2 linked regions of the Homo sapiens genome follow. The protein of the gene in region 1 interacts with the protein of each later gene in a pairwise test. Each region holds a gene or a part of one and is shown on either strand. Other genes may lie near its edges.

Region 1 (3,534 bases):
ACGCCTGTAATCCCAGCACTTTGGGAGGCCGAGGCGGGCGGATCACCAGGTCAGGAGATCGAGATCATCCTGGCTAACACGGTAAAACCCTGTCTCTACTAAAAATACAATACAAAAAAATCAGCCGGGCGCGGTGGCGGGCACCTGTAGTCCCAGCTACTCGGGAGGCTGAGGCAGGAGAATGGCGTGAACCTGGGAGGTGGAGCTTGCAGTGAGCCGAGATCGCACCACCGCACTCCAGCGTGGGTGACAGAGAAAGACTCCGACTCAAAAAAAAAAAAAAAAAAAGGTCAGGGCTGGGACTAGAAGCCACGACTACAGCTGAGTGAAGCTTGAGCCCCTGAGCATTGCTGGGCACTGAGGGGGACACGGGGAGGCAGCAGCCACTGGCACTGGGGATGGTCGGAGACGCAAAAGGGACTCTGTGGGAAGCACAGGCATGGGGGGTGCAGGGGCGGCCCCACCTGCAAATGCCACTCAGGGTTTCTGGCAGGGGTGGGAAGGCAGCAAGACAGGGCGATTGTAAAATGTAAGTATATAATGTGGTATCTGGAAAAACAAAACCACTTCTGAACTAGAGAACAGGTGGTCCGGACACAGGAGTGAGTGTGGGGCCTATCTGCCACCCCGTCCTGGGGCCAGTCTAGCTCAGTGTGTGCAGGGCGCCTGTGAAGTGTGCGTGGCGGTGGGGACAGAGACAGCAAGGCCAGCTCGGGCAAGGCCCAAGGAACCAGGACACACGAGGACAGAGGCCAAGCTGCAGGCAGAGCCAGGCCAGAGGCTCCAAAGACAGTCTGGATTGGGGGATGCAGGGAGGGTGGAGTGTGGGGGATGAGGAAAAACAGTGACACTGGGAGGGAACAGGACAGAGGAGCATCTGGGATGTTTCCAGGCTGTGGGAAATGGTAAGACAGAGCCGCGTAGAGGCAGCACCCGGAGGACCCTACAGGAAGCTGCAGCAGACGCAGAGGTGGAGAGCGGGCAGGACGTCAGGGCGGGCAGGAGGTCAGGGCACACACCTGGTCTGGGCACACACTTGGTCTGGACAGGCTTCCCGCCCCTGCCCCACGGCACCCGGAGGGCATGCTCCTCATCCCACACCCAAACATCCATGACCAGCGCCGTTTCTGCTCCTCCCTGGCCTGCCTGCCAAACCATAAATGCCACCACGGCCCCCCAAAGTGCCCCTGCCCCACCGTCTGCCCACAAGCACCCTCACCGTGACTGCCCATGTGGGCTGAGGAGAAGCCGCTAAGCGTGTTGCGTCCCGACGCGTCGGCGTAGCGGGGCATGGAGCTGACCACAGCCTGCAGGTACTTCTCCTGCTCCAGGCTACTCGAGTCCGCCTGGGACTGGCCTGGGGGAGGACACGGAGCTGAGGGAGGGGAGGGTGAGATAGGGCAGGGCAGGCACAGGGCAGGACGCAGGAGGTACCTGGAGAAGGTGCGTTCTGGGCCTTGAAGAGGCCGACGACACCTTTGCCATGCAGGCCTCCAGAGCGCAGCAGCACCGCCTTGGACCGCCCGCTGCGCCAGCAGACCACGGGGAAGCGGTTCTGGCGGTAGCAGCGGGACACGCGCTGCAGGGCGTTGTCCTGGACACTCTGGGGCACGATCAGCAGCCCTGGGTAGCTGAGAGGAGGCAGAGGCGTGAAGGTGGCTGGCGACCCCACCCGCCTCCAGGCTCACGCCCCAAGCAGGGCAAGAGGAGCCAGCCCATGGCTCCCAGCAGGAGGCGCTTCCAGCTCAGCCACGGGGCCCCCCAGCCACCCCCCAGCCCTGTGGCCCGTCCCTCTGCCCGGAGTCTCCCCCTCCACATTCCTTACATGACCAGAAGCCGTGGCCCAGGCCCACAGCGGGCAGGGAAGACACCCAGTCACGTGTCCACCACCCGGGCCAGCCCTGGCCGGCCCTCACCTGCGGCAGATGGCATACATGCGGTTGACCGGAGAAATGCGGAAGGGCTCAGACTTGGCCCGGCTCAGGCTGCTGCTCAGGGTGCCCAGACCGAGGCGCTGGTAGTCGCGACAGCAAGCCCTTTCCACCAGGCTGCTCATGGTCATGCGGTCGGAGGGCTTCAGGGCTGAGGACGGGGTCAGCGTGCTGGGCTCCAGCTCCTCCGACACTGCACAGGCCGGGCACACGTGGTCATCACGGGGCCACTCCGCCTGCCCTGATCCTCCCTGGCCAATGTCAGCATCCAGAGACCACCCAGGACTCCACCCCCACCCCTCCACCTGAGATCTCGTCCTCCTGGTCCTCAGGGGGCGGCTGGCCCCGGTGCTCCCAGCTGGGGGGGTTGTACTTCTTGCGAGTGACATGCTGCCGCCCGATGGTCTTCTTGGCGTTCTTGACCAGGTTCCGGGACAGGGTTCTGAGGCCCACGAGAGTCAGCAAAGGTGAGAGGAGGAGGGACAAAGATGAGCACAGGGGCCTAGGAGGGTTGGAGCGGGAACACGGCTGAGGCCCAGCTGCCCTGCCTGGGACCCAGATCCATACCTGAGGGAAGGACCCTTGTCCTTGGTGACTCGCGGTGGCCGGCCAGGTGTGTGGGCAGAGCCCAAGGTGAACGCAAAGGTGGCCCTGATGTCCGGCGGGTACCGCAGCTTATGCAGCTGCTTACGGAAGAGCTCGGCGCTGTCAGACCCCACCTCCTCGTCAAAGGCCATTTTCAGCAGCTGTGTCAGTAAAAGCAGCCCTTAGGGGTGTGGGTGGCCCCCCAGCCCCTCCCCCAACTCTGACACTGCCAGGCTCCCCTTCCCCTCGCAGCCATGACAGAGAGAGAAGCAGGCCCCAGGCAAAGGCCTGTATCTGTGTCACACGAAGGCAAGCGCTTGTGTAAACTCGAAATCTCAGTGGCTGTGAGCTGAGGCCTGGGTTTGCAAGGCACACCCAAGACACGGACTTGAGGGCCGGCGCCCCAAGGAAAGGACAAGGACCCAAAGACCGCACATCAAACAGTGGACATCAACTCAAGAGCCACAGTGAGGGCCCCAGACATGCAAGCGTAACAACAGGGCCACTGCTGGAGACTGGCCTAAAAATGGTTCATACAAGAAAGACCGGTTTGCAGGAGAAAGACCAGGGCGGGGGATGAGAGCCCCACCCGCGCACCGCGCCCCACCTGGAATGTGCAGGAGCGCAGCTGGAGCCCGTCCTGCAGGAGCTGGTCCACAGGGGTCTGGACGCTGATGCGCTTCTCCTTGGTCAGCGCAGCCACCGGGAAGGAGCGGACCACCACCTGCTCCCCAACTTAGGACAGGCCAGGCAGAGTCAGAAGCAAGGAAGGTAAGGGGGGGGGGGTCCCAGAATCTCAGGGTACCACAGTTATGGGGAATCCCAAGTGGGTGGGGAAGGAGCAGACAAAGGCCCGTTTCCCACGGGCACCCAGAACCCCCGAGAAAAGGGAGAGGGAGGCAGGGAAAGCCCATCCATCCCAAAGACCTGGGGGAGAGGGGGCGACAGGGCCAGAGAGTCTGCAGGCTCACCCAGGGGGTCCGTGGGCATCCCCGTGAAGATGACCCGGTACGTGGTG
Region 2 (3,807 bases), on another chromosome or scaffold:
TCGAGGTCTGAGAAGTAGGCAGAGTCTCGGTAGGGATTCTTCTCGTTGAGGCCACTGAGGGAGGTGGAGAGCCGTGTCTCGGGCCCGGGGCCCTCACCCTCTGAGGCCAGCTCCGCAAAGGCCTGGGGCTCACACCCTTCCTGCGCCTCCTTGAGCACAAACTCAGGGGACTCATAGTTCTCGGTGTCATAGCCACTGTCCAGCGCTCGCGGCTGCCCTCCAGAGGGGCCAGTGGCCGACGGGCTGAAGACCTCATAGCCACCATCACTGGCTGAGGACGGGATGTCCAGGGAGTCCAGGGAGTCGGGGGTCCCCACCTGCTTCTGCAGAGAGCGGAAGGCTGGCACCACATCCGGCCTCCTGGCCTGCAGGCCGTCGCTGGACGTGTCGGTGAAGATGCCTGAGGTGGCCTCGGCCGTGTCCTCATCCTCACTGCTGGGTGCCTCCACCTCGGGAGAGCTGCTGCTGCCATTCAGGGCAGAAGCCAGCTTGATGGCAGACACCTCGCCACCAGTAGCAGGCGTGGGAGAGTCAGGCAGGGCATCAGGGGCGTCGGGGGCACTGGCCTCCTCCGAGGGAAGTGGGGCTCCCTCCTGGGATGGGGAGGGGACGGAAGGAAGGGGCAGGCGGGGTCCGGTAGTGCCCTCAGCCTCCGTGGCAAGCTTGGGCTCTGCCTGCGGGTGGTCACCCCCACTACTGGCTGTCTCTGTCCAGGAGGGTGTAACCAGGCAGGGAGCAGGTGCCAGGCCCTGGGCAGAGCATAGATGAGGGAGGCCGGGGCAGCAGCCTGGCTCCTGGGCAGAGGCTGCCTGGAGCCCAAGCAGAGGCTCTCCAGGGTACCCCGGCTCGGGGGAGGCCCGTGGGGTCTGCTTTGGACTGGGGCAGCCCTCAGCGTGGCCGCCCGCAGAGACGGGGTCCCAGGACTCTGGACAGCGGCTGCCGCTGTTGTTGTTGGCTGACACGTTGGAGCGCCAGTGCCCGCGCTGGGCGGCCCTCCGCGCTCCCACCTCCTCTAGCTCATCCTCGCCAGTCAGCGGCAGCGGGGGCGCCCCTGAGCTCCCCAAAGGGGACGTGCCCAGTGGGTCCTCGAAGAAGGCAGGACAGAAGGCGGCCACGCCCCAGTCTGCATCCTCCGCTCCTCCCTCCGCCAGACTCAGGGGCCCCGCCGAGGGCGAGGGAGAGCGTGAGGGGCAGAGCGGGTCCCGCGCCAAGCTTCTGCGAGGGTAGTGGTCGCCGCGGCCCCAGGGGACGTCGACGGGTGGCCCGTGGCCCAGCAGCGGCTCCATGGCCAGCGAGGCGGCGGTGCTGCCGTCAGAGTCGTCGTCCTGGTCCGCGGTGGCAGGTGGACTGGGGGCGCAGCCGGCGCAGTCAGGGTCGTGGCCGGCGGCGGGTGCGGCCTCCTCTAGGCGGATGAAGTACTCGCTGCCCAGCGACGGGCTGTGCGCGCTGAGCACCGGAACCACGCCCGGGGGCGCGCCGTCGGGGGCGCACAGCTCCTGCAGGCGTGCGGTGCGGCCAGGGCTCAGCGTGGCCGGGAAGGCCTCCGCGCCGCGGCCCGCCTCCCACTTGTACTCAAAATTGAGGCCTCGGCTGGTCTCGGTCACCGTCAGCACGTCGTCGCCGTCCGCGTGGAAGCCGTCGCCCGCGAACTGCTCCAGCAGCGGGAAGGACGAGGCAGCGGCGAGCTCCACCACGCCGCCCAGCATGGGCCCCGCCGCACCGGGCCCGGGCCCCACGCCGCCCCCGCCGGGCCGCAGAGAGCGCCAGCGCCGTTCAAACTCCTCCTCTGCTTCGGTGGCGCCCTTGGCACACAGGTAGGACAGCAGCAGGTGCACCTCCTCGGCTGTGGGCCGCTGCTCGGGCTGCAGCCAGCAGAACTGCATCACCTCGTACCTGCGAGGAGGTCCCCCGGGGGCCACGTCAGAGGCAACGCTGGCCAGGAACGCGTCCCTGGAGCAGGGATGGGGGTTCCCCTAACTCCCAGTGTCTTGGGGGCATTAAGGGTATCTCCCACTTAATTGACACCCCAAATCTGCCAAGGCAAGCCCAGCAGCGTGGGAGCAGGAGGTGGGCTGGGCACTATCCTTAAGCCTTCCCTCCCTGTACACAGGGGTGCAGAGGTGGCGGGTGGAGGCCCTACCAGAGGGGAGGGGAGACCAGGCAGGGCTGGAACGCCAGGGGGTCAGGGTGAGCCGCCTCTGCCTGGGGATCAGGATACCCCATCTCGGCCTGGCTGTCCGGGACAGGGCAGTGGGGCCCTCACCAGCGGTCCGACAGGGTCAGCTGCAGCTGGGGCTTGGGCAGCTTGAGCTGCTGCTCCCGGACCGTGTACGCCAGCACCTGCTGGTCCGAGTGCTGGGGATAGGGCTGCGTGCCCAGCTCAAAGAGCTCCCAGATGGTCACGCCCAGGGACCTGTGGGGCGACAGCCGTGAGCCAGGGCTGGGCACAGCCTGCCACAGCAAGGACCGCGCAGGATCCCCGGGGCGCCGAATGGGGCAGCTCCCGCCATCACGCCAGTGCCTCAGGACCGGGGCCTGGTACCATACCAGCCGCCCCTCCCTGAGGACAGCGCGTCCTTTCAGCAGGCAATGTGCACCCTGCCAGGCCCAAGCCCAGCACCTGTGGAGCCTGCACATAAAGGCCGGGCTGGCCGAATCCATCTGCTTGTCCACTCATTCATTCATTCACTGATGCACTGAAGACCAGACACTGCCCGGTGTGGGAGCTGCCCTGGGGGAGCTGGAGGGCGGGCGTGGAGCCCAAAGCGGAGTAGGGCCCGCACCAGCAGGGGGCTGAGGGAGGGGGAGGGAGGGGGAAGGAAGGGGAGAGAGGGGACGCCTCAGGCCAGCATGGGCAGGGCTGGGTAACAGGCAGGGGTGCACAGAGCGTGCAGGCGGGTAGGGTAACTGGGGTCTCCTTCCCCGTGGGCTGTGGCTTCACCCAGCCACTTTGGTCCCTGGCTGTCCCAAGAGGCTGCAGAGTGAGACAGAGGTGATTTGGCAAGACGTCACCATGACCTTGGCCAGAGCCCTGTGACTGGAGACCCCAGCCAGCGTGCAGTGGGTGGGCAGGCCAGGAAGGGGCACCTTGGTGGAGAGGTGAGGAGGGGACAGTGTCCATGATGGGGCAGTCAAGTGGCTTAGGGGAGGCCCCAAAAGCTCAGGGAGGGGGCCTGGCCCGTGGGATCTGAGAGTTCCCCAGAAGCAGAAGGCGGCCAGACCAAAGCCCGGGAGTGGTGGGGGCGGTTGGGGAAGCAGCAGAGGTGAGGCAGGGAGGGGCGCCCACCCCGGGGCGGACCACTCCCCTGGCGGCTCGGCCCTGCCCCTTCCGAGTCTACACCAGGTGTGAATGAACGCTCCGGGCTAGGCACTCAGGATAGGGGCTTCCAGGCTGCGGCCGTGGGAGATCCCAGCACCACCGTCAGCCCCTCTGCCTGGCACGGCCCGACCTACGCTCCCGTGAAGGCAGCCAACACCCCACCCAGACCCTCTCCCCAGGGACAGGTACTCACCAAGGCCCCCGTCTCAGGACAGACCCCCCGGCATGCTGAAGACGGGCCGTTGGCCCTGTACGTATGCCTTGACCCCACCATGGGGTCCCTGGGGCACCCTGTCAGGGTGGTATCTCCCCCGGTGTGGGGTCGCCACCCAACCAGCCACTTGGGCTGCTGGCGTGTGGCCACTACAGGTGGCTCCGGCAGCCCCCTGACCTCACTACTCATGGCCATGATTTGACATGGGTGGGCAGGTGGCACTCGGCCTCGGCCCCTCACGGTGCCACCAGGGCCGCACTCACCACACATTCCC

The links.
Region 2: the proteins of SBF1 (region 1) and AATK interact in a two-hybrid assay, tested with the Homo sapiens proteins (one study listed by BioGRID and IntAct).

What each region holds. Positions count from the first base shown.
Region 1 is NC_000022.11:50,458,036-50,461,569, forward strand, and holds part of SBF1 (myotubularin-related protein 5), read right to left. Parts: coding exon 3,488-3,534; intron 3,252-3,487; coding exon 3,124-3,251; intron 2,678-3,123; coding exon 2,499-2,677; intron 2,374-2,498; coding exon 2,237-2,373; intron 2,125-2,236; coding exon 1,917-2,124; intron 1,632-1,916; coding exon 1,435-1,631; intron 1,358-1,434; coding exon 1,220-1,357; intron 1-1,219. UniProt on the Homo sapiens protein: Acts as an adapter for the phosphatase MTMR2 to regulate MTMR2 catalytic activity and subcellular location. Promotes the exchange of GDP to GTP, converting inactive GDP-bound Rab proteins into their active GTP-bound form.
Region 2 is NC_000017.11:81,120,931-81,124,737, forward strand, and holds part of AATK (serine/threonine-protein kinase LMTK1), read right to left. Parts: coding exon 3,797-3,807; intron 2,414-3,796; coding exon 2,264-2,413; intron 1,894-2,263; coding exon 1-1,893. UniProt on the Homo sapiens protein: May be involved in neuronal differentiation.